Regions from separate parts of the Homo sapiens genome. Here all the other regions are reported to be linked to region 2. Evidence: microRNA targets listed by miRTarBase, many of them from high-throughput screens and not tested one by one. Region 2 holds a microRNA gene; each other region holds the end of a gene's coding sequence.
Evidence for each region. The annotated mature microRNA hsa-miR-4421 reads ACCUGUCUGUGGAAAGGAGCUA and lies in region 2 at 2,725-2,746, opposite strand. An mRNA with a match to its seed (bases 2 to 7 or 8) in the 3' UTR can be bound and repressed. Matches are read on the target gene's strand: a 7mer-m8 pairs with bases 2 to 8, a 7mer-A1 pairs with bases 2 to 7 and ends in A, and an 8mer does both.

Region 1: miRTarBase lists XPNPEP3 as a target of hsa-miR-4421. Seed matches in the 3' UTR shown: 7mer-m8 at 3,130-3,136 and 7mer-m8 at 3,572-3,578.
Region 3: the mRNA of WIPF2 is a reported target of hsa-miR-4421. The part of its 3' UTR that is shown has no 7-base or 8-base seed match.
Region 4: the mRNA of FAM110A is a reported target of hsa-miR-4421. The part of its 3' UTR that is shown has no 7-base or 8-base seed match.
Region 5: miRTarBase lists B4GALT7 as a target of hsa-miR-4421. Seed matches in the 3' UTR shown: 7mer-A1 at 3,431-3,437.
Region 6: the mRNA of ZWINT is a reported target of hsa-miR-4421. Seed matches in the 3' UTR shown: 7mer-A1 at 4,439-4,445.

The regions. Positions count from the first base shown.
Region 1 is chr22:40,925,263-40,930,610 of GRCh38, forward strand. It overlaps XPNPEP3 (X-prolyl aminopeptidase 3), which reads left to right. Exons shown (of 10, transcript NM_022098.4): 10 at 1,007-5,348. The coding sequence ends at 1,173. Among named protein-coding and RNA genes, the nearest start is that of RBX1, 23 kb to the right of the region's middle.
Region 2 is chr1:51,057,277-51,062,624 of GRCh38, reverse strand. It overlaps MIR4421 (microRNA 4421), which reads right to left and starts at 2,788; the gene lies at 2,720-2,788. It overlaps MIR6500 (microRNA 6500), which reads right to left and starts at 2,607; the gene lies at 2,522-2,607.
Region 3 is chr17:40,277,418-40,282,765 of GRCh38, forward strand. It overlaps WIPF2 (WAS/WASL interacting protein family member 2), which reads left to right. Exons shown (of 8, transcript NM_133264.5): 8 at 768-5,348. The coding sequence ends at 808. Among named protein-coding and RNA genes, the nearest start is that of CDC6, 7.8 kb to the right of the region's middle. RefSeq lists enhancers at 3,629-4,565, 4,566-5,348.
Region 4 is chr20:845,273-850,394 of GRCh38, reverse strand. It overlaps FAM110A (family with sequence similarity 110 member A), which reads right to left. Exons shown (of 2, transcript NM_001042353.3): 2 at 4,118-5,122. The coding sequence ends at 4,703. Among named protein-coding and RNA genes, the nearest start is that of FAM110A, 14 kb to the right of the region's middle. RefSeq lists enhancers at 3,792-3,851, 5,080-5,122.
Region 5 is chr5:177,608,976-177,613,216 of GRCh38, reverse strand. It overlaps B4GALT7 (beta-1,4-galactosyltransferase 7), which reads right to left. Exons shown (of 6, transcript NM_007255.3): 5 at 4,203-4,241; 6 at 2,887-3,677. The coding sequence ends at 3,522. Among named protein-coding and RNA genes, the nearest start is that of B4GALT7, 11 kb to the right of the region's middle.
Region 6 is chr10:56,353,540-56,358,672 of GRCh38, forward strand. It overlaps ZWINT (ZW10 interacting kinetochore protein), which reads right to left. Exons shown (of 9, transcript NM_007057.4): 7 at 5,017-5,133; 8 at 4,838-4,920; 9 at 3,688-4,646. The coding sequence ends at 4,879. Among named protein-coding and RNA genes, the nearest start is that of ZWINT, 5.2 kb to the right of the region's middle.

The sequences.
Region 1 (5,348 bases), not on the chromosome of region 2:
GGTCCTGGGTGTTGGGCAGGATTCTGAAGAGAAGCAGTGACCACAATGGTGTGTGAAGATTGATGTTGTCAGAGTTGATGGTTAAATACTGATGCTGGTTTTGTTTTGAAAACAGATCTAAATTTTAGATTTCAAGTATTTTAATCTCTGTATAAATTATGGCTGTGAAATGTCTTTTATGCCACCCTTTGAACCTAGTCATACATTGCTATCTGTGGCCATAGATATATCATTTAGTTCAATCTGTTTGGTACATGGGCGCTTCCTTAGACTGCGCTACATTTTCCTTTGCTGATCTTTCTTTTTCAATCGCAGAGCAGTATCTGTGAGGATAGTGGAGGAAGTTTACAACTTGTTTAATATAAAAAGCCCTGGTATGTGTCTAACTTCATGATTAGAAAGGGTACCTGGGGTTCCTACATTTTTCCAAATGTACATTAAAGTCTTTCAGTTTCTCTTGTATTTTATATTACACACATCAGATATATTTAAATCTTATAATGACTGTCTCTGCAGCTTCCAGTTGTCAAGGCTAATAATCTCTAAATGTTTCTTTGAATACAGTTTAAATATATTTTGTCTTTATTTTTGCAAGGTGCTCTTTTTCCAAGGGACTCTTAGGCAGGGGAAGAATGCACTTACATAATCTGCTTGTCCCCCACATATATTGACGTACTTTTAAATTAAGTAACTTTATTGGCCTGCTTGAGCCACTAGAATATGACAGAATCATGATCAGCATTGCCGTAGTTGTATTTAGCTTGTAGTCCAATATAAAGATAACCACAATAATAATTTTAGTAATGATACCAACATGTGTTGACCATTATATGCCAGCCACTTTGACATGTATTATCTCATTTAATCCTCACAGCTTTACTAGGTAGGTACCATAAAGATCCAGTATTACAGAGGAAGGAATTTTAACCCAGAGGTTAACTTACTTGCCCCAAACCACCCAGTTACTATCATTCCTGAACAGCATGTTCTTCTTTCTACTTCACAGGCATTTATATTCCAGAGGATGACAAAGATGCCCCAGAGAAGTTTCGGGGTCTTGGTGTACGAATTGAGGATGATGTAGTGGTGACTCAGGACTCACCTCTCATCCTTTCTGCAGACTGTCCCAAAGAGATGAATGACATTGAACAGATATGCAGCCAGGCTTCTTGACCTTCACTGCGGCCCACATGCACCTCAGGTTCAAAATGGGTGTCTTCTGGCAGCCCTGCACGTGTGCTTTCTGAGTGTCTCTGTGTGTGCATTAATATATGCATTCCATTTGGGAGCATAGCAGCTGTGTGAATGTATGTAATTGTGTGTGGGGGGTTTTTTGTTTTAAGTAGTTAGAAGTCTGGGAAAATGAATTTTTGAATAGTATGTTACTGCAGCTTTGGTAACATTAATTCTATAGAATTAATGATCAGAGCAAGTTTAATTTTTAAACATAAAGGTCTTGGTTACACATGTCCATGCATTCCAGTTAACACATTTAAACATATAGAAAATTCACTTCTTCTTTCAAGTCCTTCCCTTTCTATACTTTTGCTGAGATCAACCCAATATCATAAGAAGTTTGTGTGATGCCTGTATTTTTAGCTAATTACCAAGGTCTCTGCCTATGCAAAAATTCATCTTTCGGTGATTGTGGGCGGCCAATACATACCTTCTGTAACTCCTCCCTACCTATTCTAGATCCTGCATATCTACTGGAGCCATATGAGCCCTCAGGGGCACTGGTGTCCTGCAGTCTTACTAGTCAGCCACAGTCCAGGTTCCAGCAACACTAGCTACCTACCAAACAAAACACTTCTGAGCTTTTCTTGCCATTTGGTTGCCTGGGACCTGGAAAGTGTTTAGATTCTTGATAAAGATGGAAATGGAAGAGAAAGAAAATTATATATGTATATACTAAAGATCCAGACATCAGGGCTGGGCACAGCGGTTCCGCCTGTAATCCCAGCACTTTGGGAGGTCCAGGCAGGTGGATCTCTTGAGACCAGGAGGTCAAGACCAGCCTGGCCAACGTGGTGAAACACTGTCTCTACTAAAAATACAAAAATGAGCTGGGTGTGATGATACATGCCTGTAATCCTGGCTACTTGGGAGGCTGAGGCATGAGAATTGCTTGAACCTGGGAGGTGGAGGTTGCAGTGAGCTGAGCTCATGCGACTGCACTCCAGCCTGGGTGACTGAGCAAGACTCTGCCTCAAAAAAACAAATAAATAAATAAAATCCTGACATCCTGCCATCTTTTCTCTTCAATTTAAAGTTGATTTCTTAATGATGACTTCAAAAATTAATAAAAAGAAAAGAAAAAAATGATTTCTGGCCGGGCGTGGTGGCTCAAGCCTGTAATCCCAGCACTTTGGGAGGCCGAGGTGGGCGGATCACGAGGTCAGGAGATTGAGACCTCCTGGCTAACACGGTGAAACCCCGTCTTTACTAAAAATACAAAAAAAATTAGCTGGGCGTGGTGGCGGATGCCTGTAGTCCCAGCTACTCAGGAGGCTGAGGCAGGAGAATGGCGTGAACCCAGAAGGCAGAGCTTGCAGTGAGCCAAGATCGCGCCACTGCACTCCAGCCTGGGTGACAGAGCGAGACTCCGTCTCAAAAAAAAAAAAAAAAAAGAAAAAAAAAAGAAAGATTTCTTTCGCAGATATCCCTGCTCCCTCTATAGATTCTTAATGCACTGACCCTCACAGGTTACCCTTTTAGCTGTTGTGCTGCGCAGGAGCAGATCCTCTACTTACGTACCCTGTCAGAGTCACAGTAGTAGCGCCCAGTTTTCAGAGAAGTACCCCTGTTATCATTCTGTGATTTCCTCTAGTGCTAATAGAAACAAAATATGGAATCTACCAAGTACCCGTAAATATCCTATGATTCTTATCTTTCTTTGATACTAGCACTGGGAGTGCAGTGGTAAAGAGTCATACTTCTTTTTTTTTTTTTTTTTTGGAGACAGAGTCTCGCTCTGTCGCCTGGGCTGGATGGAGTGCAGTGGCGTAATCTCAGCTCACTACAACCTCCACCACCTGGGTTCAGGCAATTCTCCTGCCTCAGCCTCCCAAGTAACTGGGACTACAGGTGCACGCTGCCATGCCCAGCTAATTTTTTGTATTTTAGTAGAGACAGGGTTTCACCCTGTTGCCCAGGCCGGTCTCAAACTCCTGAGCTCCGGCAATCCGCCCACCTCAGCCTCCCAAAGTGCTAGGATTACAGGCATGAGCCACTGCGCCCGGTGTAAGAGTCATATTTTTTTAAACACAAACATTGGATACAATTATACAGCAACTCAGTTTGCAAGATGAACAGGGCTAGATTACCACAGATAGCTTATTTAGGAGCGTCTGTGATAGAGGGAAGCTTTAAGAACCAGTGTGTTCACCTCCTTTAAACCTGGATATGAGGTCAAGATGTATAAAACATGCCAATTGTTAGAACACAAATTTGAGGGTTTCTTAAAAAAACAATTTGTATTAGGGAAGCACAAGCTAGGGGATTAACAATCTCTGTAATGCTGGAAGTTTGCCTATCTTATCAGGGAAACCCAGGGTACAGAGTGAAAAGCAGACAGGCAGTGACTTCCTCAAGAGACAGATAATGTGAAAACAAAAGTGATACAAATCATATCCTGACAGTGCTAGCCTAGGAATGCCTGGCTTTGCGCACCTTATCTAAGCAGCTCTCAGAATGGAGGCTGCACAGCTGGAGTCTCCATCCCCCATACCCACCTTCCCACCTCCCTCCAATTTCTCAATCCAGAGCTTTTTAAAAAAAGGGGAGGGAAATAACTCCACAGCTCTGGCTGCTCACTTCCCAGGCTCTGTGCCCCCAACAGCCCTTTCCTTGGATTGTGTTTCCTTTGTTCATTTGTAATCCAGGAATAAGGAATTTCCTTTTCTTCTTGTATCATTTTCTTTTCTTTTCTTTTTTTTTTTTTTTTTGAGACGGAGTCTCACACTGTCACCGGGGCTGGTGTGCAATAGCGAGACCTCAGCTCCCTGCAACCTCCATCTCCCAGGTTCAAGCGATTCTCCTGCCTCAGCCTCCCGAATAGCTAGGAATACAGGCGCCTGCCACCACACCCGGCTATTTTTTTGTATTTTAAATAGAGACGAGGTTTCACTGTGTTGGCCAGGCTGGTCTCGAACTCCTGACCTCATGATCTGCCCGCCTCGGCCTCCCTAAGTGCTGCGATTACAGACGTGAGCCACCGCACCTCCTGTATCATTTTCTATGGTCTAAACTTTTCTAGCTAAAAGCCTAGGTAGCTTGTATGTATAGCAGCATACTTGGACATGAAACACACTTCTGGTTAGATTCCAGTCAAGTTCTATAGGTGTTATTGGTAGGCAGAAAGGCTGTTGTAGAATTCTTCTGGTGATTTTCAGTCCCTGACCCAGGTATATTGTCCTTTGAGTCCCAGATTAACTAACTATAGCAGCTAAGCATTTGAATCAGACTTCTCATAGCAATGTTATGGGCTGTCTGATATATTCAGGATTTGTTGAGCAGATAAGCTGTGTGTGATCTTACTCATTCTCAGCCATGCCGCAGACATACCCATTTCCCTTTAGTAATTTTTTAATACAGAGAATGCTATTAACTGTTACTGGATATCAAATAATTTTATTTTTCTAATAGTATTTTCCAAATATTTCTTAAAATTCTTAAAATTTAGGTTAAAGTTTGCTGGTCTCTTACATTTAATAAAGCTGGGACTTGAAGACTTACCATAGTTTTCAACTGCCTTTGCAAGTTCATAAACTTCTAAGGGTAAAAAGTGAATAAGATAAATTCAGAGTTTTAAGGTAAAGGCTTTATATTAGCTTTTTTTTTTTTTAAAGGTTTTTTGTGGGGTTTTTTTGTTTTTTTTTTTTTTGAGATGGAGTCTCGCTCTGTCACCCAGGCTGGAGTGCAGTGGCACGATCTTGGCTCACTGCAACCTCCATCTCCCGGGTTCAGGCAATTCTTCTGCCTCAGCCTCCTGAGTAGCTGGGACTACAGGCGCGTGCCACCATGCCCGGCTAGTTTATTGTATTTTTAGTAGAGATGGGGTTTTACTGTGTTAGCCAGGATGGTCTCAATCTCCTGACCTCATAATCTGCCCACCTCAGCCTCCCAAAGTGCTGGGATTACAGGCGTGAGCCACTGCACCCAGCCTTTTTAAAGTTTTTAATTGACATATAATTGTACGTATTTACAGGGTAAATAATGATGTTTTGATACATATATAATGATCAGATCAGAACAATTAGCATATCCATCACATTGAACATTTATCATTTATTTGTGTTGAGCCTTTAGTTCTTTTTTTTTTTTGAGATAGAGTCTCACTCTGTCAC
Region 2 (5,348 bases):
AGCATGCCAATCTATGCATAATGGTAGTCTCGGAAGAGAGAAAAAGGAGCAAAAAATATGCTTGACAAAATAATGGCCAAAAACTGCCAGCGTTTGATGAAAAACATTAATCTATACATCAAAGAAACTCAACAGACTCCAAGTATAGTTGACCCTTGAACAACATGGGTTTGAGCTGTTCAGGTCCACTTATATGGAACTTTTACTCACCTCTGCCATCCCTGAGATGGCAAGACCAACCCCTCTTTTTCCTTCTCCTCTTTAGCCTACTCAATGTGAAAACAGAGGGGATGAATTCCTTTCTGATTACCCACTTAATGAATAGTAAATATATTTTCCTTATTATTTTCTTTTCTCTGGCTGGCTTAATGGTAAAAATACAGTATATGATACTTATAACATTAAAAAAAGTGTTAATCAGCTGTTTATGTTGTCAGTAACATTCTGGCCAATAGTAGACTATTGGTAGTTAAGTTTTTGGGAAGTCAAAAGTTGTATGTGGATTTTTTTTCTACCCTCTTCTCACAGGTATGTATATGTGGATGTTTGACTAGTGGGGTCGGCACCCCAACCCCTCATGTTGTTCAAGGTTATACTGTAGTATAAATGCAAAGAGATGCACACCTATACACAACATAACCAACTGGAAAACCAAGGGCACAGAGAGTATATTGAAAGCAGAAAGACAGAAGCAGCTCATCATCTCTGAGGTATTCTTGATAAGATTAACAGCCAAATTCTTTCCAGTAACTTTATGAATATAAACTATTGTTATGAATATAGACTATCAGAATGATTCCAGCTCCATATAAAAATATTTATGGACCATGACAAAGTGGAATTTATTCCATGAATACAGGCTCAGCATACATTATCATATATCATATTAATAGAATAATGGACAAAAGCCAAACAGTCATGTCATAGATATGAAAAAGCACTTGAGAAAATTCAACACACTTTAATGATTAAAAAAACAAACAAGAAACCTGGAATAGAAGGAAACTTCCTCAGCCTGATAAAGGGCATCTATGAAAACACACTGCTAATGTCACTTTGTGGTGAAAGGCTTGAAAAAATTATCCCATCTTAGTCTGTGTTACTATTAATATAAAGGCATACCTGAGGCTGGGTAATTCATGAAGAAAAGAGGTTCATTTGTCTCACGGTTCTGCAGGCTGCACAAGAATCATGGCATTGGCATCTGCTTCTAGTGAAGGCTCCAGGCTGATTCCACTTATGGCAGAAAGTGAAGAGGAGCTGGTATATGCATATCATATGGTGAGAGAGGAAGCAAGAGAGAGACTAGAGGAGGTACCAGGCTTTTTTCAACAACCAGTTCTTGTGGGAACTAAAAGTAAGAACTCACTCTCGTGAGAATGGTACAGAGCTATTCATGAAGGATCCACCCCCACAACCCAAACACTCCTACCAGGCCCCATCTTTAACACTGGGGATCAGATTTCAACATGAGACTTGGCAGGGCCAAACAAATCATATTCAAACCATAGTACCACCTAAGATCAGGAATAAGACAAGGACGTTCACTCTTACCATTTATATTCAGTGTTGTACCAAGGGCTGCATACCCATCAGTCAGAATCCTTGTGTCATGGCATCCTCCAGGTGTCACTTTTCCAGTTGGAAACCTCTGTGGCCAGTGGTGCCTTTGCCAGAGTTTTGCTCAAGCCTGCTGGGCTTGTTCCACCCACTCGGCCTGGCAGGCTGCACTCAGCTCATGCTACTGGCCTGGCTCCCACACCTTCAAAGAATGATCCAGGCATGGAGAGGAGAGGGGTGCACAAGTAAGCAAGCATGGGGTCTGGCTGCTGCACACAGCCAAGCATTGGCTGCTGTGGTGGGGTGGGCAGTTCCAGGTGCCACCACAGGTGCTGGCTCTGTTCAAGCCTGTGGCTGGATCAGATGCACTATAAGTGGCTTCTGCTCTGGGCACTCACATCTGGACAAGGGGAACATGGTGGCACTTGGAAGCTCCAAGACACTAGAAACCACAGAGCCCCAAAGAGGGTGTCACAGCCCTGGCTGGGGGAGCCTGTGCATCTGAGCTCCCTGAAGGGCTGCAGCTCTTCTCTCCTTCTCATTGCCTGCAGTGTGACGAGTGGGGTGGAGGCAGGTGTTTTAGCTCTGTTTGTGTTATAGCACTTTCAGTCCCACCATTCAACAGGTCCTGAATTTTTGTCCTGTGTCCAGGAAGAATGAGGTATGCAGAAAACTGGAGGGTGAGCAAGGCAGAAAGGAACTTTCTTGAGCAAAAGAGTGACAGAACAGCTCTTGGGAGACCTGGAGTTGGTAGCTCCTTTCCACAGGCAGGTCATCCCAACTAGTTCAGCCCTCAGTAGAGAGGAGCCCCAGATTGGGTAGCTCCATTTCACAGGCAGGTCATCCTGACAAGTGTCCAGCTCTCTGGGGAGAGGAGACCTGGAGTGGGTAGCTCCTTTCCATAGGCAGTTAGTCCTGACGAGTGCATCCCTCAGCAGAGAGGAGACCAGAGTGGGCAGCTCCTACCTGCAGGCAGGTCATCCCAACAAGTGTCCAGCTCTCAGAAGAAAGGACACCTGGAGTGGATAGCTCCTTTCTGCAGGCAGGTAGTCCTGACGAGTGCAGCCCTCAGCAGAGAAGAGACCCAGAGAAGGTAGCTCCTAGCTGCAGGCAGGTTGTCCAGATGAGTGTCCAGCTCTCAGGGGAGAGGAAACCCAGAGTAGGTAGCTCCTTTCCACAGACAGGTTGTCCCAACAAGTGTTCAACTCTCAGCAGAAAGGAGACCCAGAGTGAGTAGCTCTTTTCCACAGGCAGGTCATACTGACAAGTAGAGGAGACCTGAAGTGGGTAGCTCCTTCCTGCAGCTGGTAGTCCTGACATCTGTATGAGTCTAGCTAGGTAACATAGTTTTTATGGGCTCAGAAAGGAAGAAGTGTGTTCTGATTGGCCCATGGGTGGCCATGGGCGGGCCTGGAAAAAGCACCATAAGTTCTCACTCCAGGCCGCAGACTCCACCTGGAGCTGACAGCCCAGCCCCCAGGCTTCATGCCATCCATGGCTTGAAGGTTGCGTTTCACTGGGAACCTGCCCCTTTCTGCCCAGGAGCCTGTCTGCCTCCTGTCACCATCAACATGTTGTCCATGCCGCCCAGGCTGTTCATGCTGAGGTTTGCCTACAGGCCCACACTGAGCCACCCTGAGCAACCCCTTGGTCTCCCTCTTGTGCTCTTCAGTTCCCAAAGTCTGGATGGCCTGAGACAGCAGGGGGCTGGCATGTCAGCACTGCCCTGAGTGCTTGGGTACCCAGCTGGGTCACAACAGTGCCTGGGCTCTGCCACAACTTTGCTCTGCCCCAGAGTGGGGGCCAGGAGCAGGGAGAGGCCAGGCAGTGGGAGCAGGCACTTTCAAGCCTACGGGAACAAAGGGCTTCCGGGGCCCCTGAGACCTCAGGGATGCCTGGGTCTGTGGCTACAGCTGAGAAGCTGCAGCTGTGCCTGGGAGCATGTGGCTCCTGCTCCACTGACTTGTTAGGGGGTGGGGCTCCCACCTGTTCCCGGCACCCGTGGGCTCAGCAGAGTGTGCAGCCCCAGTTGTGCTTCCCCTGCTGAAGCCGGCATCTTCACAGTGGCTACTCCAGACAGGCCACTGCTGCCATCACTTGCACCAACCTGTAGGTGACAGTCTTCCTCCATGAAGCCAGTTCATATGCTCTAGAAGTTACTCCTCCATGAAATATGCAAAGAAACAGCCCAAGGCTACAAGAAATACGCACACACGAAATCAAAGAAACAGGACACCACCAAAGGAACACAATAATTTTCCAATAACCAACCCCAAAGAAATGGATATCTATAAATTGCCTTCCAAACAATTAGAAATAATTGTTTTTAAAGAAGTTCAGCATGCAATAGGAGAACACAGTTGGACAACTCAGTGAAAACAGAAAAAGAGTCTACGGCCATACCACCTCGAACATGTCTGATTTCATCTGAAAACAGAGAAAGAATACATGAACAATACAAGAAGTTCAACAGGAAGGTAGAACTTATAAAAAAGAACCAGGCTGGGAGTGGTGGCTCACACCTGTAATCCTAGCACTTTGGGAGGCCAAGGTAGGCGGATTGCCTGAGCTCAGGAGTTTGAGACCAGCCTGGGCAACACAGTGAAACCCCATATCTACTAAAATACAAAAAATTAGCTGGGCATGGTGGTGTGCACCTGTAATCCCAGCTACTCAGGAGACTGAGACAGGAGAATCACTTGAACCTGGGAGGCAGAGGTTGCAGTGAGCTGAGGTCATGCCACTGCACTCCAGCCTGGGTGACAGAATGAGACTCCAACTCAAAAAAAGAAAAAAAAAAAAAAAAGAAAAAGAAAGAAATTCTGGAACCAAAAAACCTAATGACTGATATTAAAAACACAATAGAGAACTTCAAAAATAGACTTTATTGAGCAGAAGAAAGAATTTGTGCCCTTGAAGACAGGTTATTTGAAATTATCCAGTCAGAGGAGAAAAAAGAATGAAAAAGAGTGAAGAAAATTTATAGGACTTATGGGACACCATCAAGCAAACCAATATGTGCATAATGAGAGTACTAGAAGAAGAAAAGCAAGAGAAAGAGGTAAAAAGCTTTTTTAAAGAAATAATGGGTTAGGTGCAGTGGCTCATGCCTGTAATCCCAGCACTTTGGGAGGTCGAGGCAGGTGGATCACCTGAGGTCAGGAGTTAAAGACCAGCTTGGCCAACATGGTGAAACCTTGTCTCTACTTAAACTACAAAAATTAGCCAGGTGTGGTGGCAGGTGCCTGTAATTCCAGCTACTCGGGAGGCTGAGGCAGGAGAATGACTTGAACTTGGGAGGCAGACGTTGCAATGAACTGAGATTGTGCCACTGTACTCCAGCCTGGGTGACAGAGCAAGACTACTTCTCAAAAAATTATAATAATAATAATGATAATAAAATAAAATAAAGAAGTAATGGCTGAAAACTTCTCAAATTTTGAGAGGGAAATGGATATCCAGATTCATGAAGCTTACAGGTTTTCAAAGAGGATCAATTCAAGACTATACCAAGGTACATTTTAATCAAATTGTCTAAAATAAAGGACACTGAAAGAATTTTAAAGCTGCAAGAGAAAAGTAATGCATCACATATAGGGAATCACCATAAGACTATCAGTGGCTTTCTCATCAGAAACCTTGCATGCCGAAGAGAATGGGATGATATATTGAAAGAACTGGAAAAAAAAAACTACTTACCGTGAATCTACATCTGGCAAGATTATCCTTTAAAAATGAAGGGGAGATGAATTCTTCCTTAGACAAACAAAAACAAAGGGAGTCTGTCA
Region 3 (5,348 bases), not on the chromosome of region 2:
ATGCCTATAATCCCAGCATTTTGGGAGGCTGAGGTGGGCGGATCATGAGGTCGGGAGATCAAGACCATCCTAGCTAACACGGTGAAACCCCGTCTCTACTAAAAATACAAAAGATTAGCTGGGCGTGGTGGCACACACCTGTAGTCCCAGCTACTCGGGAGGCTGAGGCAGGAGAACTGTTTAAACCCAGGAGGCGGAGGTTGCAGTGAGCCAAGATCACGCTACTGTACTCCAGCCTGGGTGACAGAGGGAGACTCCGTCTCAAAAAAAAAGAAAAAAAATTGCTTCTCATCATCTTCGTTGTCCTTTTTTTTTTTTTTTTTTTGAGATAGGGTCTCCCTATCGTCACCCAGGCTGGAGTGCAGTGGTGCCATCTCGGCTCACCCCAAACCTCTGCCTCCCAGGTTCAAGTGATTCTCCTGCTTAAGCCTCCCAAGTATCTAGGATTATAGGCGTGTGCCACCATGCCGGATTATTTTTGTAATTTTAGTAGAGACTGGGTTTTGCCTGGTTGGCCAGGCTGGTCTGAAACTCCTGACCTCAGGTGATCCGCCCGCCTCGGCCTCCCAAAGTGCTGGGATTACAGGCGTGAGCCACCTTGCCTGGCCACTCATCTTCATTTTCTTAGGCAAAACAATAATAACACGTAGTCCCCAGATTTTAAAGGTTAGCTTAAAGAGCCTGTCTCTCATTTTAGGAATGTGTGGGTTGTTCAGATTCTGGTGGGTGACCTGTATGTGTGTGGTCTTTATTTTGTTTTTTTTCAGCTGCCCGTGGAGCCCCACCTCTGCCACCCATTCTCAGGTGAAGCCTGGCTTGGTCCCGTTCCTCAGGAAAAGGATGGACCTTCTCTTCTTCTCAGATGGTCCCTTCCATTCCCCTGAAACCTGCATGAGAGCTCCTAACATGTTTCTCCAATGCAATCAAGCCCTAGACTCCAAATGTCCTCCCAGCTCACCTCCATCTATGCATCTCATCTCTGGATTTGGTGATCAGACTCTATATTGACAGTAGGATCTCAAACCCTGCATCCATCCTTCCTCCAGCAAGCCCTGCTAGCCACATGAGGAACAAGTTTCCGTGTCTTCTGCCTTCCTCTTGGGGAAAGGTGCCTTGTTGTGATGAATTAACTCACTGTTAGGGCAGGGTGGAGAATGGTACTCCTTCCTTCTCCTGTCCACTGTGGGGGAAGCTTGGCAGGTATATTATATTTCATCATTTAGGAGGCTGGCATGACCAGGACTTATGGGTGGGAGGGGAGCATTTTTAGTGAAGCAAGAAAGGAGTTTGCCAAGAAGTGATCTGTTTTAAAGGTCATATTTGGAGAAAGGGCAAGGAATTGGGTCTGCTTTATTTTTGGGGGTATTTTGTTTTTGTTCTCACCTGCTGCCCCCCCACCCCACCACCCCAGGGATAAATTGGATATAAACACTAAATACTAATCAGTTGAACTTAACATTTAATAAAAAGAAAGGGTGAAATAAACTGAAGACCATTTTAGAACTAGTCAGTTCTCTGCAGCAAAGGGAACAGGAGCCATTTGAACCCTCTGGGACCCCTCACCCCACTGCTTCAGGGTGCTAGGCTGAGGGATGTTTTTCCTCCCCCTTACCGCCCATGCCCTTGAAAGAAAAGTCACTTTTTGTGGAGGGCATCATTCATTCCTGATTCACAAACCCCAAAAACCTCTGGTGGGAGATAGGAAGATAGGGCGTGGGCCTGGGCCTTAACCTCAATCTTGTGTCTGCCTCAGTCTTTTCTGACTGGCCCTGAAGTTGTCAGTGGCTCTTTCTGTCCTTCAGCCCCTGGAAGGTGCTCCAGGATAACAAAGAAGGGCAGGTTGAAGCCCCTCATGGAAGGAGCTGGCTTTGTGGGGCTGCAAAGGACTTTTAAGTCCTGCCTGTACTGAAGTTCACAGCCCACCTGACTGAGCAGACTCTTCCTGTTCCTTTCTCTACCACCCTTGCCTTCCCAGGACTGCACGGTTTAACACAGCAGAGTACAGAAGGGTGAAGAAGTGAGCAGAGGCTTATGAAGATATTCAGATACTCTTCTATGCCAGGAAGCACAAAGACTTTGTTGAGATTTGCCTCAGTTCAGTAGATCTTCCTTGGCAGCCAGCCATAGGTTGTTTCTTTGTCTTCCGGGTCCTAAAGAGCACAGAGAAAATGGAGGTCCCCAGTCTAGGTAGGAAGCTGATTGGATGAGGACTTCTTTTTTTCCGACAGCAGGATGGGGCTCTTGGGCTCCACACACCAGATGCTTTGGTTTTCTACAACTGTTGCTATGTGTAGAGGGTGCTCAGAGCGTGGCATGAGAGCAAGGAGACCATGGCTACTCTTTGAAATGGATGGGGAAAATTAGCTTAAAAATTTAATCACGAGATTGCGCCACTGCACTCCAGCCTGGGCGACAGAGCCAGACTCCGTCTCAAAAAAAAAAAAAAAAAAAAAATTTAATCACACACATCACAGGCTTAAACTGTCTTAGAGACCTTTCCAGTTGATTGGATCACAGGCTAGGGATCTGTGCATGGTGCCAGGTGAAACCCAAGTCTCCCCAGTGCTAGGTGAGGGAGGGCTCAACGGGGGTAATGTGTATGGGGTCTGCTGTCCTTTGCCATCCCCTGGACCATATTAACTCTGGGACAGACCATGATTAGGTCTGTCACCAAACTTTTCCTAATCATTTTTTATGTATCATTCTTCTTTCTAATCTGTTAGCAGTTATCTCCCAGAAGTATCCCTAGCATCCTGAAGCAAACAGAACTGCCGGGCGCTGTGGCTTATGCCTGTAATCTCAGCAATTTGGGAGGCCGAGGCGGGCGGATCACCTGAGGTCAGAAGTTCGAGACCAGCCTGTCCAACATGGTGAAACCCCGTCTCCACTAAAAACACAAAAATTATCTGGGCGTGGTGGCATGTGCCTGTAGTCCCAGCTACTGGGGAGGCTGAGGCAGGAGAATCGCTTGAATCCAGGAGGTGGAGGTTGCAGTGAGTGGAGATGGCGCCACTGCGCTCCAGCCCGGGTGACAGAGTGAAACTCCATCTCAGAAAACAAACAAACCAAACAACTGAGAGAGGGCATGCTAGTGGAGGGAAAAGGAGAGAGTACAAGAGTTGATACTGCATCAGAGTTCCAGGGCAGATACTGACAAGTGACTGAACTTTGACTGTGAAGTCTTCCCATTTATTTTTGAAATGGGAGTCGATGCCTTTTGTACGTTATCAAAGTGTTTTTTTTTTTTTCCTCCTTTACTCAGACATAGAGCATCAAAATATCACGAGTAAAGCCAAACCCCAGCTTTTCACTGGGGCTGATATCTTCCTCCCCATGGCCCACTGCCCCCTCATATTCCCCAGCACTTGGACTGTGTCACATGGGTATTGATTGTATACTTGTTGTCTTGGCCTCATGCAAAAAGGCCTGGGTCTAGATCTAGTCAGATGAGTTTTTTTTAGAGCATGTTGATGATACAACACCTGTTTAAATGTCTGCCTTATATGTTATTTGGTCCCACTGTTAATAATAGATTTATTACTATGTATATTTACTATTGAAGATGGGAATGTGATCTGCATAGTTATCAGTCTATTTTGTATGTTGTAAAAAGCTTCTAATTTAGGTTTAAGGTGGGCTGGCTACAAGAGCACTAAAACTCCTCACCTTTTAAACTGCTCTTTTTATCTGCTTGTGGGAATGTCGTCTCTTTCGTGGAAGATTGGGTGGTCTCATGTTGAGGCTGTTGCCCAGTCCCATTAACTCCCTTGTCCCCCCACAGAAGGAAGAGACATTGCCCAGCTAAGCATCAGGAAGCTGTGTTAAAAGCCCTTCTATGGGTTTGGTTTTGTGATGTTTTTCCCTAATGGGAAAAACGTTATAGTTGTTTCTTACTGCCCTGTCTGGGAAGCAGGGCAAACCTCCAGGTTTTTAAATGAGCTAGATGCCCCTCTTCCTCTTCTCTGGTCACTGAACCTGGACCAAAGCACTTTGATATTCCAGGTGTGATTTTCTCTGTCATGGGGATTTGCTCCACTGCAGAGCCCCATCATTTTCACAGCGTAGGCCAACAGAGTGAGAACCTAGGGCTACCCTAGCTGATGGATGTGAGGCTGCTGTCTACAGGAGCTCATCCCAGCCCTGTTAACTGGCAGTGGCAAGGATACTCGTCATCGGCCATTGCACTGGGGAACTCCCTCACCCCATGGCTTCCCAACTTGAAACCCAGATTTACCTCCAGGGAGAGGTGAGAAAAAAATTGTAAATAGACTTGCTAAAGAGCAACTCAGGGTTGGGGTGTGTTTTAATTCTCCTGATCACTTGAAATAATCTGTAGGCTGAGTGCTTATGGGGGTGGGGGAGAAGGGTGACTCCAGGGTCCTTCCATTTTGTGAAGCTCTGGGGGTGGAGTGTGGGCATCTGAGGCCCTATGATGGCACTACATTGAGCTGTCTGCCCTTCCGGAAACCCAACCTGCAATCAACTGCAAATCAAATTCTTCACATTCCAGCTACAGTCTTTCTTTCCCCATTGAATCTCAGTCCCTGGCCATGTGGTCAAGGTGGCTTTCTGTTAAGCTACCCTAATTTCGGGAATGGGAGGGGAGAGAGGAGGGCCATTACAACTCTGCCTTCAAGACTCATCTCTTAAAAACAAAACGAAACAAAACTACAACCACCATCAAAACCACACGCAAAAAAAAAAAAAAAAAAAAAAAGGATAACTTTAACCGAAGGAAGGGTTTGGTTCCATTCAACTCCACATTCATTGTGCCTTTACTTGCATTAGATTTCTGTGCTTTCTTCCTTTCCCTCTTTGAAGCAATTAAAATCTTCCTTGATAACTGCTGTTTCTTTCTACTCTTGTTTCTGGCAATTTAGTGGGTTCCTTCTCTAGTGGTCTTAAATCTCATTCCACTGGTGGCAAGATGGGGCCTAGCCTTCTTTTCACATGTCTAATCTTTTCCTTTCTCATGGTGCCCTCCATGGAAGTCACAGTCAACACTGAATAAATGACTAGAATGACACGTGTGCGTGCGCACGCGTGTGCGTGTGTGTGTTCATCTGTCTGCATGTGGATCAATTTCTTTTAGAAAATAATTTATTGTATGATTTATTTTGGAGTTATATTCTGATTACAGTGCTCCCTCTCCCAAATAGCATTGATTTTTTCCCCCCTCTAAAATGTATAATCTGGTCTCAGGTTGGATTCTTTGGTACATTTCTCTCTTCTGGATGCCATGCAGCTTAATTAAAACCTTGCTTAAAAACAAAAAGTGAAAATTGTGTACTCTTGTCTGGAATACCGCCTCAGGTGGTGGCACAGAGAGGGGAGAAAACCTTTGCCTC
Region 4 (5,122 bases), not on the chromosome of region 2:
AAGCCAAGGTGGGTGGATCACTTGAGGTCAGGAATTCAAGACCAGCCTGGTCAACATGGTGAAACCCCATCTCTACAAAAAATACAAAAATTAGCCAGGCGTGGTGGCACACACCTGTAGTCCCAGCTACTTAGGTGGCTGAGGCAGGAGAATCGCTTGAACCTGGGAGGCAGGGGTTACAGTGAGCCAAGATCACACCACTGCACTCCAGCCGGGGCAACAGAGCAAGATTCTGTCTCAAAAAAAAAATAAATATATATGTGTGTGTGTGTGTGTGTGTGTGTGTGTGTGTGTGTGTGTATGCCTAAAATTGATCAAGAAAACAGCAGGAAAAGCAAGTTATTTAAAAATATGGAGGAAAGTACCAGAAGAAATAGTTTAAGAAGTTGTAAGTGGTTGCTTTTGGGGAGCGAGGCTGATGTAGAGGAAAGGACAAGGGATGCTGCTTGTTAGTACTGATATATATGGATATAAAAATATGTCCATGGTGGGCAGGCAGCAATCGGCAGGAGAGCGATGCAAGGAAACTTTCTGAGGTGATAATGCTTGATACCCTGATAGGGGTTTGGGGTACAGTATGCATTTGTCTAAATTCAGCAAATGGCACCTTTAAGATCTGTGCATTTCATTCCATGTAAATGTTACCTAGAGAGGAACAAGACAAACAAATATTGAATTCTAGCTAATGGCATGCACACTAAAGTGACTTTAAGGGAAGTGTACTGATATATGCAACTTAATTTGAAAAGCTTTATTAAAAAATAAGTTGTATTAAAAAAATAAGTTGTATTAATGGATGGAGAGATGGGTAGATTCCTGATAGAGCAAATATAGTGAAATATTAACAAGTGTGCATTAGTAGGTGGGTATATGAATGTTCACTGTCTAATTCTTTCAACTCTATGTTTGAAATTTTTCTTAATAAAATGTTGGAAGAAATATATGAGTGAATTATCTGAAAAATAATATTACCTTTTATTTTATTTTTATTCTACTTTAAGTTCTGAGATACATGTGCAGAATGTGCAGGTTTGTTACATAGATATGTATGTGCCACGGTGGTTTGCTGTACCCATCAACCAATATTACCTTTTTAAAAACCTGGATGGGGTGTTCACTCCTTTTTTTTTTTTTTTGAGAGGGAGTCTTTCTTTGTCACCCAGGCTGGAGGGCAGTGCTATGATATTGGCTCACTGCAACCTCCACCTCCAGGGTTCAAGCGAATCTCATGCCTCAGCCTCCCAAGTAGCTGGGATTATAGGTGTCCGCCACTATGCCTAGCTAATTTTTGTATTTTTAGTAGAGACGGGATTTCACCACGTTGTCCAGGCTGGTCTCAAACTCCTGGTTTCAAGTGATCCGCCTGCCTTGGCCTCCCAAAGTGCTGGGATTACAGACGTGAGCCACCGCACCCGGCCGGGTGTTCAGGCCACCCAGATGGACCAGCACAACTGTAAGCCCTCCTATATGCACATCTAATTGGCAGCCAGCTGCAGCCATGCTCTCATCTATATCCTATGACCCTACCCTGGGGTCCTAGAGTCAAGGACCTATAGCCAAATTCCTCAACCCTTTCCTGGTCCCCTGTACACAGGATATCAGGTAAGATGGGGGTGGGGGGTCTCCTTAAATGTTTCAGTAGCAGGAACAGAACTATTTAACCAAGGACAGGGAACAGGCCTCTGCAGCTACACTCCATCCTCTGCCAAAAGGGTAAACTGAGGTCTGTGGGGGGGGGGCTGCCTTTCCCAGGGCCCATCCACCTTCATGATAGAAGTGAGCAGCCAGGTTGCCTGGTTCCCAAATCCACGTGTATATAATTAGCTGGTGGGAAATGGATCAGAGAGCAGATCCCATCTCTGCCTAATTAGGGGCTAGGCAGCTGGGGCCAGGCTGGCCTGGGGGAGCTGCTTCGGAGGGCTGGGCAGCCCCAGGAGACAGGGCAGCAGCTGCAGGCCCTCCGAGGGCTCACACTCCAACTGGAGGCAGAACAATAGAGGGGCTGTTTCCACAGATCCCCAAGGCTGCAGGGTTGGGGGAGGGAGGAGTGCAAAAGCCCCCCGCCCTGCTCCCTCCACAGAGGCCTGCAGGGAAGGCGGGAGGCTCCAGAATCCTGGAACAGGGGGAGCCCTCCCAAGACCAAGCCATAACCATTGGAGAAGACTCAATCTGGCACCTTCCCCACTTCCAAGAATCCCTCCCTGCTCTCTCCCCAACAGACCCTCCCAGTGGATTTATGGAAAGGCGTTCTCTTTTCAGCTATCCCCTGGTCCAGCTCCTGGGAACAGCTCTGGTTTTAGGGCAGAAGTCCCTAAGTATACCTGCTTTACATTCTATGATTATTTATGTGCTGAATGTTTAGTTGCCCATTCTCTTCTCCAGACTAGGACAGGGGCCATGTCTGTCTTATCCACTGCTGGGCACCCAGTAGATGCTCAGTAATAAAGTGACCAGAAGAAAAGGCTGCCAAGATGAGGAAGAGTGGTGGGGTACATGCTGGGAGAACCAGGAATCCAGACTGCGATGTGTCTGGCAGGCAAGAGTGTGACCCCAGGCTGTCCTGCAGACCTGCTATGTGACAGTATACAAGTCGCTATCCTTCCCTGAGCTCAACCTCCTGCTCTGACAATATATCTGGTCCTCAAAAGGCTACCTTGAGGATTCAAGCACTGTACCCTCCTTCAGAAACAAGGTGTCACCCACCAGTCCTGTGACCTGAACCTCAATTTCTTCACATGTAAAATGCAGCCAGCCCATCCACCTTCTTGGGTTACTCGGAGGCTGCCAGGTCACAGCAAGGGGCAATGACTAGCCCTGAATTCTAGCAGGGTTGCCTAGGAAATCTAGTCTTTGACACCTCAAAGGGCACCACGTCTGCAGATCCTGCCTGGATTCTCTCTCCTGACACCATCACTCCTTCAGCATGGGGACCCTGGAGGCCCAGCTCCTGCATTGTCAAAACTGCTGGGCACCATGGGGGGTTGTGGGTAGGTCACCACCCTCCTCATGCTTGTCTCCCCACCAGTATCATGAGCTCCAGTCTCATGAGCTGGAACACCATCTTCTTCTAGAACCCAATTTTCCCTTCCTTCCCCAAACTGCCCAGGCCCATCCCAGGCCCCTGGGGGCTAGTTGTAGACAGGCAGACAGACAGAGAGATGGACAGCTGGGCTGATGTGGATGTTTGTCAACAGTCCAACGGAAATCTCCTCTTTATGCTTAAAATAAAACCTACATCAAACCTGTCACCAGGGCCCCCATTAGAGCTTCCTGTTTCTGAGTGCTGCAGCCAAGGCAGCCTGTGAAAGGAAGCGCCACCCACCCCCTCTCCACGCCCACCGTGGGGCACCAGAGAGGCCACCCCCGCTTTCGCCCTTTGTAGGCCCAGCTCTAGCCCTAGCTGCTCCACTAGCCAAGGTGGGGTGTCCTAGTAGGTAACTGACCTGGAGGGAGACTGGAAGAAGCTGAGGCCTCGAAGCCCAGTGCCAGCCCCTTCCTTCCCCTCTCCCCAGGTATTGGAATATAGCATGAAGGGCCCAGAATGCACCAGTGCCCCAACCCAAGGAGGACTGTGCTGCCTAACTCTCCCACTGAGGCCCAGAGGGAAACTGGCTTGTCCAAGATCGCCAGGGAGGCCACTCATTTTGTGCCGTCCACCCCAAGTCTCTCTTCCTCCAAAACTCCCACTTCTCATCCTCACTCTATGGTCTGTGTGACCTCAAGTTCAGGATTTGCCCTCTCCGAGCTTCCTGCCCCCTTGGGAACTGGGCAGGGCTTGGATGGAACACTCCTGGTTGGGGAGAGTCTATGCACCCCATCGGCCTTTCCCCTGCAGGCTCCCTTTCTGGTGCAGGGGAAAGACCCCATTCCTACTCCCAGCTCTATTCCAGCTCACTCATGGCTGGATCTCAGTTTCCTCCTCGATGAGGCAGGCCTGCTAGCCTTCCAGGAGAGTTATGAGAACCCACCACGGGGACATGTCTCCAGCCAGGCCAGCCGCTATCATCATGCCCCACCACTAGACCTCGGGGTGAACAATTACTGTTTTGATGGCCCCACCCCAAGACTTCTCTCACCCTTTCTCTTGTGAACACAGAAGAGTCTGAAGGCCCAGCCCTTGAGAAACAAGCATTTGTGTTTATTAACCAAGGAGAGGGAAGTCAAAGCAATGCAGACTCCTAACCAGTCCCTCCTATAGTCTGCCCACCTAGGCCAGCTGCCAAGGACTAGGAAGAGCAGTGGATAGGCCCCTCCCCACTGCCCCGACCCCAGGGTGAGTTCTGCTGGGTAAGGAAGAGGAAGTCAGCAAAGGACAGAGGCCAAGGAAGGAAGGAGGAAACAGAGCCGCTGGGGAGACAGGATTGAGGAGATCCCTTGGCCCCTCACTCACAGTGGGGAGGGCAAAGCACCGCAAATGCAGCCCCACAAGAGGAACTAAGCAGGAGTACACTCATGTCAAAAACCTTGTATTGGGGGAGGGGAGGAGGGGGTTCTCAGGTGTCCAAAGCCAAGAACAAAACCCTTGGAGAGTCAGTCCTTGCCCAACAATGCTGGTCCAGCCTCTAAGCCTTTGCCTCCATACCAAGTTCACAACAGGGTGGAGCCTCTGACACGGCCGTCTAGAGAATGGATGCAAGAGAGGTCCAGGGACCACTTGCCTCTGTAAGATCCGTCCTGTGGCGAATTCCAGGCCCAGTGGCGCCTAGCCTTCAGCTGCTGGGCTCTCCCGAGCCTGCCTTAGCCCATACAACCACTTGATCACGCGGGCATTGCGCTCCACCACCGACACGCCATAGGGAACGCGCTCCCGGGCCCGCTCCTCAACAGTCACCGAGCTGCGGCGGGAGCAGCCCCCTTCAGAGCTGCCCGGCCCAGCACTGGGCCCTGCCAGGGACACGATATCCGAGCTGGCCCGTGCCAGGTGGGCCACACCCAACCCTCTCGCCTCCTCCGGGTCCAGGCCGCAGAAGTTAAAAAAGCGCTCGAGATCAGCGGCTGCCCTAGAAAAGCGCTCGCTCAAGTCCGACTTGGAGCGTTGCAAACCCGGCGGCCGGGCTGGGCTGGAGGCGGCGGCAGGGCCGGGTGATGGGCAGGGCCGGGCAGGCGAGGCGGGCAGGGGGCG
Region 5 (4,241 bases), not on the chromosome of region 2:
AGCAAAAAGGCCATGTGTCCGTCCATTTGGCCTTTTGGGAAACAGTCTGCAGTGGAGTCGACCCTCCGTGAAGGGAAGGCCTGATGGCGTCTGATTGATCCTGCTAGGGAGGGCTCCTACTGGCTCTGGGGGTTTAGCATCCCCACGCCCACTCACCTGCCTCATTCTGGCTTCACCATCTCTCCCTTGGACTGGGTGCTCTCCTTCCTCAGACTCCACCCTGCAGTCCACCCTGGGTCCCCCAAAGGATCTTTGTTATCCCCCAAAGGATCTGTGTCATAGAACACAGGTAAGTGTTCAAAAGTTCTCCCCTGGCCGGGCTCACACACATAATTCCAGCACTCTGGGAGGCTGAGGCGGGCAGATTGCAAACATAGTGAAACCATCTCTCTACTAAGAAAATACAAAAAATTAGCCAGGCGTGGTCCCACATGCCTGTAATCCCAGCTACTCCGGAAGCTGAGGCAGGAGAATCTTGAACCCGGGAGGCAGAGGTTGCAGTGAGCCGAGATCGCGTCACTGCACTCGAGCCTTGGCCACAGAGTGAGAGAGGCCCTGTCTCAAAAAGAACAACAAAAAAAGTTCTCCCATGCTTGAAACTTCTCAAAGCCCCTGCACCCCTAGAATAAAGTACAAGTTGCTTAGTGTGGCATTCACAGATCCTCATGACTCACCCCAGCCTTCCCTCTGCTGCCCACCTCCCCACTTCTGCACAGTATCGTGGGTGCCAGGAACACTCCAGCTGCTCCTGGGTACCTGACACACATGCTGGCTCCAGGCTGCCTGCCTTTGCACATGATGATCCCTTCCCTTTCCTGCTGACAAATTCTCCACCAGCAAGACTTTGCCTCCTCGGGGAAGCCTTCCCCAAGCACTCCACACAGCTCTCATTTACAGTGCCACACTCTGGGTCCCACTAATGCCCCATCGGCGCTCCTCAGCACCCAGCAGCAGAATCCCTGTCTTCCTCGAGGCAGCGGAGCCTGAGGCAGATCCTCTGCATCTCCACCATGCCCCTGTTTTCCTCTCAGCCCTCCCCATCTGCCCTTTCCAGCAGGGGAGAGGAGGGAGGCCTGTAGGGAAGGAACACCTGCTCATGGGCACCTGCTGTACAGGGCAAAGGGGAAGAAACCTGGCTCTGAAAGTGGATTCCAGGGGTTCCCAATCCCAGCCCCCCATCCCTTACAGCTCTGCGACCTTGGGCAAGCTACTTGCCTGTCTGTGCTTTGCCTTCCTGATGTACAGAACCAGTGAATTAGGACCCAGCTCTTAGGTAGGGAGGCCTAAGTGAAATGCGGTGTGGAGAATTTGGTTATCTGGTGAATGTTCAACAAGGGATGGTTATTATTATTGCAACCACCGCCTCACTGGCCAAGCGCTGTGCCAGGTGCTCCTACATCCTGGGTAGGTTTCGGCCACGCCCTGGCCAGCAAGGCAGGGATGTCAAGTCCATTCCACGAAGGAGGCAAGTGGGGCACTGAGGCGGCACAGGACTGCCGCTTCTCGCCACCCATGGCTCAGGCGTCTCCCACTCTCCTGGAGAGTGGTGGAGGCCCAGGATGCAGAGTGAGGGGAGCTGCAGATTTGGAACGCGTCAGGCCCAGCCTGGAGTGCCCAGCACAGCCTTGAAGATGGAGGTGGGGGTGGCGGTCAAGGGAAGCAACAGGCTGCAGGGCTAGGGATGCACCTAAGCTCAGGTGTCAGCTGATCTCAGAAGGTGGAGGGACCTTCGCTTTTCTTCTGCTCATTGCACTCCCCCAGTGCAGGTGGAAAGGAAGGAACCTCCATTTTCTGAGGTCTTCCTATGTGACAGGAGAGTGCAGAGCTGGGAGCTTTGATATTACACCTGTTCCCACCAACTCCCAAGAGCTGGTGTTACTGCCTGGTGTCCATGTCAGTCCAAGATGAAGCAGCTGGGATTGTCCAGGGAACTGGCACAGTCCCCTCTCCACCACCCCTGCACTAGAGTCGAGGCCTGTCTGCCCATCACAATAGTGGGTGTGGCTGAATCGATGGGGAAGGTCAATTTAGGATCACAAAGACCCTGGACTAAACACCTGAACCTGAAGCTTTACCCCAGCCCTTTCTGCTTAAATCCCTCGGCTTATACACAGGTTACACAGTGCGCAACCCACACAACTGCACACAGCAGCCCTGATCATCCTCAGAGAAGTCTTTTGAACCAGAGCTGTGGATTCCACCTTCCTGAGCTCTGGGATGGTGCTCAGGAATCCCTTCCTTCAGGACTCCAGGTGTCCTGGTGTTAAAACAAACCCACATTACTGGGGCCTGATGGTCTCCTCTGCCTTCTGCCTTGCATCTTTGGCAGCCAAATGCCTTGGAGTGGCCTACATGCAGGGTCCCTTGCCTCCCACTCTCATGGGCTCTGGGCTTCCCTCCAAGTGATTCCCCCAAGAGCACTCCCCAGTTCATGTCTTCTCACTGCTCCTGGGCATTCAGTGACCACTGTAATCCCTCTGTGCTGAGGGAACACCACAGGGATCCTCCCACTTCTCCCCTTCTCCTCCCCACTCAAGCCATGACCCGAGGCACCGGCTGAGTGCCCTGCCTGCCTCTCTCCAGTCCTGTGGGTGAATCTCCTCAGCCACTCTCCCTCCTCCGTGTCTCAGTGAGGCCGGAGGAAGCTTACCCAGAGAGAGCCTGAAGGTGGTAAGACTGCTCAGAAGGGCATTCGGGGGCTGCCCAGAAGCCTTGGTGGGGTGGAGGTAGTACAGGAACCCTCACACCTTTGGCTTCTCCTCCCCCCTGGACTTGTCGTCCCCGCCCCACCCCAATTCCTTGCCAGCTTGTAACTCACCCGTCCCCTTGCCCCTCAGCCAAAAGTGACATGTGAGCGGTCCACGACACATTTTGTCTGGCCTGCCATACTTTTTGAAAGTTTCATTTAGGTGCTATCATTTAAAAAATCAGAAGATATCACTTAAGAATCCAGCATTCTAGTTTCTTTCGAAAAATCAGAAGATCTGGCAACACTAGGCCCACATTCCGGCATGGCAACAACCAGCTAGAGCGGTGCTGGCTGTTCCCCCTCTGTGGGGCTTGTGCTCTGGTTTCTGAAGTCCTAACCCTCACCAGGCCCAACTGCCACCTACGCCAGCTGCATGGCCCCTACACTGTGTCTCTGCACGAGGCAGCCCAGCAGGAAGGAACAAAAGTGGGGGTGATGAGAGGTTGTCCTGTTCAGCCCTCCCCACTACCCACAGGCCTGGGCACGTGAAGGAGGTCAGAGTAGGGTGAGCAGGAAGGCAGGGGGGGTCCCGGACAGGACACACCCCAGCCTCTCTCTGATCACTGTGCATGGCAAGCAGCGTCCCAGGCACCCCACGTGTCCTGGCCCAGCCCAAGCCTGCCTTGGCGGCCGGGTGGCTGCAATTGCGTAGCTTGCTGTCTTGGTCCTGGCCACTCCACATCCTGTCAGAGCTGGGCCCACGACCTGAGGCCTTGTCCTGAGCCTGAGCAATATGGCCTGTAGGTACAGGCTTCCTCACTGTCCATCCAGCTCAGCTGAATGTGCACCAGGGTGTGGCGGTCTTGTCACAGTCCAACATGATGTTGAGGACAGTGCAGGGGGCCCCGCCCACAGACAGGGCAGTGCGGGAAGCCACATGGTACTTCACAGTGTTCAGGCCTCCCTCCCTGTCCACCTTGAACTGCTCCTGGGGAGGAAGAGAGGAAAGAGCACGGACTCAGGGCTGCATGGGTGCCAGCTACCCACTGACCCCACACAACCTCGCCATCAGAGGTCCTGTGGTCCCCACTGGAGAGGAAGAACCCAGAGCTCAAAGCAGTGAAGCCTCTTGCCCAGGGCTGTGCCCCACTAGGAAGCAGGCGAGCCGGGATCTCCAGTTGGATGCATAAGCCTCCTAGAGAAGGGGCTGTTTGAGGGTGGGATCCCTGCATCCCGGGTGTGGCTGGGATTCTGGCACCTTCAGCTACGCCTCCGCCACCCCACCCTGCCAGCCTGCATGGACCCTGAGGTCTGGGCTGACCCACAGTGCCCAGGGTGCCCACAGCAGCCACCAGAGCAGGGCACGGTGCCCAAGCAGAATGCCCGTCGACTGACCTGGGCCAAGCAGGGGAGGATGGGACCATTTGGGCCAAGGAGAACTTGGTGAAAGCCCGGGCCTGCTGGCTCCCCACATGACCACCTATCTGTCCCCAATGAGGAGCCCTGCCAGCACCTGTTTTTGAGCTGCGATGCGCTTCTGGTCCCTCTTCCG
Region 6 (5,133 bases), not on the chromosome of region 2:
TGGGGCATGTTTGTTAATTAATGAATTACAAACCCAAACAGGAAGTTCCTCAGAGCCCAATGTTCTATCTATAAAAAGGGTCATTGAAAAACTGGACTGGGAATCATAATGAAATAAAATTATTTAATTTCACATTCTATTCATATCTCAGAACTTATACATAAAAGAGAGAAAGAGGCTCAAAGAAGAGACATAAACATTCAAGTTATAGAAATTCTGTAAGACAAGAATGAGGTGTATTAACCTCAGGCTCTAAAATAGGAGAAAATTAACATTGTGTGTAAATAGTTACGGCATTTTCAGAGTTAGCAGAAACTTCTCAGATGTTATCACTAACGCTTTGTAGATATTTTATTCCCTTTTGGAAAAACAAGCTCATAAAAACAATACTTCAATAAAATATATACGCCTAGTATTGTATGATGTACTGGTAGCACAGGGAAGAAAGCCATTTATTTTTAGAGATATTCAAAACCCTCACTGATCACCACTGCTGCAAAAAGTACAAGTTTAGCACTATAAGAGTTAAAGAGCAGCGGAAAATGCCCATCTTGTTATGGCAGGGGAGAGTATTAGAAATGAAACCTTAGTTTTATAAATTTCGAAACTGTACAGACAGAATGTGCAGTATTAGCTTTGCCAACACTATCTGGGATAATAAGAATATTTACCTGATAGAATAAGTCACATAAATTTAGAAGACCTTAATAATTTTAGGAGGGTACTTTGAACAAGTTTTCTCTCTCATGCTGTTTTTTAGAAACTGATCCTAGCAACTGGTTAGATAAAAATGATCAGAAATACTGAATGCAATGTGTTAAATGATTTTCAATGTTTAGAACTCTGTTAGAAAAAAATAACATTTTGGAAAAAGTAGATGCAAAAGAAGTCATAATATAGAAGTAAAATTTTTTTGGGGTGTTACCTCTGTGAAATCTCATACAAACTTCCAAGACACACTTAAAAATTTGGAATACCTCCTGTATGCATTGTGTTCCTTTTTCATTTTTGGCAACCATTTACATTTCCACCAATGTTTGTGGATCTACCCTCTATCAGTATTTTTCTTGAACTTGTGGGTTTAGTGATGAACAAAAATGATAAAATCTCTTCCCTATAAGAACATATATAATGACTACACATATACATAAGCCTATATGTAACTAATAAATTTTAAGGAACAATATTCAGAGGTGTGATACCATTTGAAGCAAATGGAATAAAAGAAGTAACAGTAAGATTACAAAATTTGGTGCATTAAAAATAACAAAATTATCTTAAATCCATTGAGGAACTAAACACTATTACAAATACATTTGAGAGGCAAGGGCAACAAAGGAAACCTCCTTGATTTAAAATAAAATCAATACTAAAATTATAATCTATTTAGAAATAATCAATAGCCTATGTATTAAAATATATGAATTATTCTCAGAGTGGTGGTCAAATAAAAATGTAAATATGTAAATGCGTTTGTTGGACTATAAAAAAGAACATATGTATTATCAAATATTAATTTTTAAAAATCCTACAAATATTAAAAATTAGAGCAGAAGGGAATAAAGACAAAAAATAATTAAAAGAATGTATTAAAAGCAACATTAAAGAAAATAATGCCAATACCTGTGTTTTTGAAAGACATATAAAGTAGAAAAAAGGCCTTTGGGAAATACTAATAAGAAAGAAAATAAACAACAGGAATGAAAAATGGGATAGCACACAAATATAAAAAACATTAAAAACACTCATTTTAACATTTCTAAGAGTTATACAGGTAATGCCCACAAGCTATTGACAGAAGTTAACACAAATTCTCTCAATTTTGTATCAGGCCGTAACGGTAAAATTTAGGAAAAATAGGCAGCTCAAAGTAAAACTACATGAACTATATTAAACAGGGAGTATGAGAGATAGGCCAATAAAGTTATATATTATGAACCTTTCCAAAAAAGATAATGAAGTGTCCATATATTAAGATAATAAAAAATAAGCTCGTATGTATACCTACTATGTAGTCAAATACATCAAGAATTAAAAAAAAAAATTTAAAAAGCTCAAAATGTAAGCCAGAAGAAAATATTCAAAAGCAGTAGTAAATTGAGATCTAATACAACTTATTGAAATGAAAATCAAAGATCAAAAATTAAGAAACTGATGAAAAAACAATAGCTTGGCTATATAAAGTTAAAATAGAAAAAGCATCTAGAATGCAATCTCAGAAAGAGCAATGGTAACTACAAAAGAAAGTTTGCATGACATGAAGAAAAAAGTTAGAAAATTTGATTGATGTCTAATTGGCATTTTAGAATAAGCTAATACAAAAGAGGTGTTTTTTAAACAGATAAACTGAAAATATTCCAGAATTGTTGAAAGAGTGGCAATTTAGAAAGCTCAACTATTTGCAAGCAGAATGAATGAATAAATAAGTAAACCAGAGTCCCAAACTATTCACAATATAGTAAAACTATAGAGCACTAAATACAGGTGTTAAAAGCACTAACTGGGTAAAAAAATGCATAGGAAGGGCTTTTAAACTGACAGTTGACTTCTCATCATCAAGGATCAAAACCAGATGACCAGAGAATCAGTTGAGTTAATCTTCAATGTGTTAAGTCAAACTGCCTACCAAGCATTCTCTACATAATAAAAACATTTCTCAAGAATAAGGATGAAATAAAAATATTTTCATAGTAAAATTTAAAACATTATACAGTCTGCAAACTCTAAGGGAAATTCTGAGACATTTATTTCAGATGGAAAAAGTATTCCACATGAAAGCTCTGAAATGTAAAAATAATGTGGGCAAAAATAGTAAATAAATTAGTAATAAAGCATTGACTGTATAAAATAATTTAAAAAATTAATTTATGAGAACACAAACAGGCTAGAAGTAATAAACTGGACAAAAATACCTTAATAGTTTAGAGTGGGATGATCTATCAATGGTTACAGCTGTTTAGGCTTCATTTATTAAGAAAAGGATGAAGAGTCTTTAATTCTTTAAATAACTTGAGACATTGCTAACTATGAAAGCTAAACTAGCCGGTCTAAATTAGACCTTCTAAACAAACAAACAACAAAAAGCATGAAGAAACAATAAAAAATAAAAGGCATGAAAGGGATAAATAAAAAGCCAAGAGAAAGCAAATAAAAAATTGACACAACTAGAAAATCATAAAGACAAATGTGACAAGAGTTTTTTTTTTTTTTATAAATAACCCTTTAAATGCTGTATACAAGTGGTAAATATAAAGAAAGGTTGAAACTAAAAAAGAATGGAAATTCAAGAGAAAGGATGTCAAGCAAAGGGTAACCAAAAGAATTGACAGTTATATTAATATTAAAACTAGTAGTTTTCAAGGTTAAACACATTAGCCTATAGATGAAGCAGGCTACCACACAAAGAGTTCAGTTCAGAAGAAAAATATAAATGTAAATTTACATATACCTTAATAAAGTAACTGCAAAGTATGTAAGAAAATGGAACTATAAAGACAAATGCACAAATCCACTATCATAGTTGGAGATTTGAACACACCTCTCAGGTGACAGACAACAAAAAATTAAGTATATAAGATATAAATTGAAACAAAAATTGCAAACATAATCTAATAGAAAATACTACACACAATCTAAAATGCATTCTTTCCAAACCTATGTGAAACATTAAAAAAGATGACATCACTCTTTATCAGTAAAAAAGATAATTCACTCACCAAATTTCAAAGTTTATTAAACAGATGATATTCTCTGACCAAATTAAACTTAGATTATCTTCTCACAATCAATAGAAGACCAAATTATTTTTCAAAGAAATTTATGAATCAATGAAATAATTATAACAGAATATAGGAAATGCTATGAATTGAATGATTGTGAAAATAAAGGAAGTCAGAAGAAATGTATAACCTTAAATATTTATTTGAGAAAACAAATAAAGATCCAAATACGTGAGTTGATCATCTGATAAAAGTAAGAGTTGACAAAAAAGGTACATCTTCTCCAATCCGAAAACAGAAAGTGGGAAAGATCAAGGTATCACTAGAGGTCAATGAAACAAAACATACAATAGTGGATGACAAAAGCCAATCTCTGAATCTTTGAAAAGAATATAATAAATGAACATCTGAAACCAGTGATCGAGAAATGTTTTAGATAAGGCACAAAAAGATACCAAGAATGTTAACACTAGGCTGTACATCCTAAAACAGTCAGATGAGCTCACTGTTATAATTCTGGTTCACCGCAAGAACCTTAGCACAAAGAAAGGACTCAACAAACATTTGGATCCATGAATAAAATTATCTTCCCACATATAACCACCTGCCTAAAACATTCTCCTCCTCCTTGAATTAAATTCACCATGTCTGCATCATAGGAGGCCCAAGGCCAGTACCCCCTCCCCATCTGCACACCCTGTGTTCAAACCAGTCCCAGCTCCTGTCATGTTATTGGCTTCTGAGTATCTGTATTAATAGTTGTTCCTGCCAGCATATGAAGATGAACAAATACACAACTGAGAGAGATCCAGGGATTTTAATCCACAGATGCCAGAGCTTGCTGGGATGTAGTCAGAAATCAAGCTGAACTCAGGAGTTCACAGTCTTTCCTGTAATGATGGTTGGGAGGTGAGGGAAGTCAGAGGCCTGGGGAAGAAGACAGGGGTTAGCTCTGGGTGGGCTAAGCATGGGAATGAGGTGTAACATAAGCTCTTTCCTGTTCCCACCATCCATCTGCTCCATGGGTAGCAGAGCTCAGATGCAGAGAGAGGTAAACCAGGCTTTCCCTCCTTCCACACTTGCAGTCCAGGGACACCAAGGCCTGAGTTGGGTCTGACCTTTTCTAGGATCTTTCTCCATGCTGCTGTCCTCCAGGAAGTCATGGCAAATTTACATCTCCAGCAGGTTGTAGACCAACAGCCTTGGAGAAATACAGTATAGACAGTGGGTAAGGCCAATCTCCCAGCTTCTGTCTCCACCTGCCAGCCCATGCCCACCTGTTCCATCTCTCATTTACCTTGAAGGACACACCAGGGTCTCTCCCCATGGTGTCTCCTGTACTCTGCTCCTGGGGTCGAGTCGGCTGCTGGGGTTTATCATCTGGAAGATTCTCTGCCTCAGCCTCAGCCTCAGG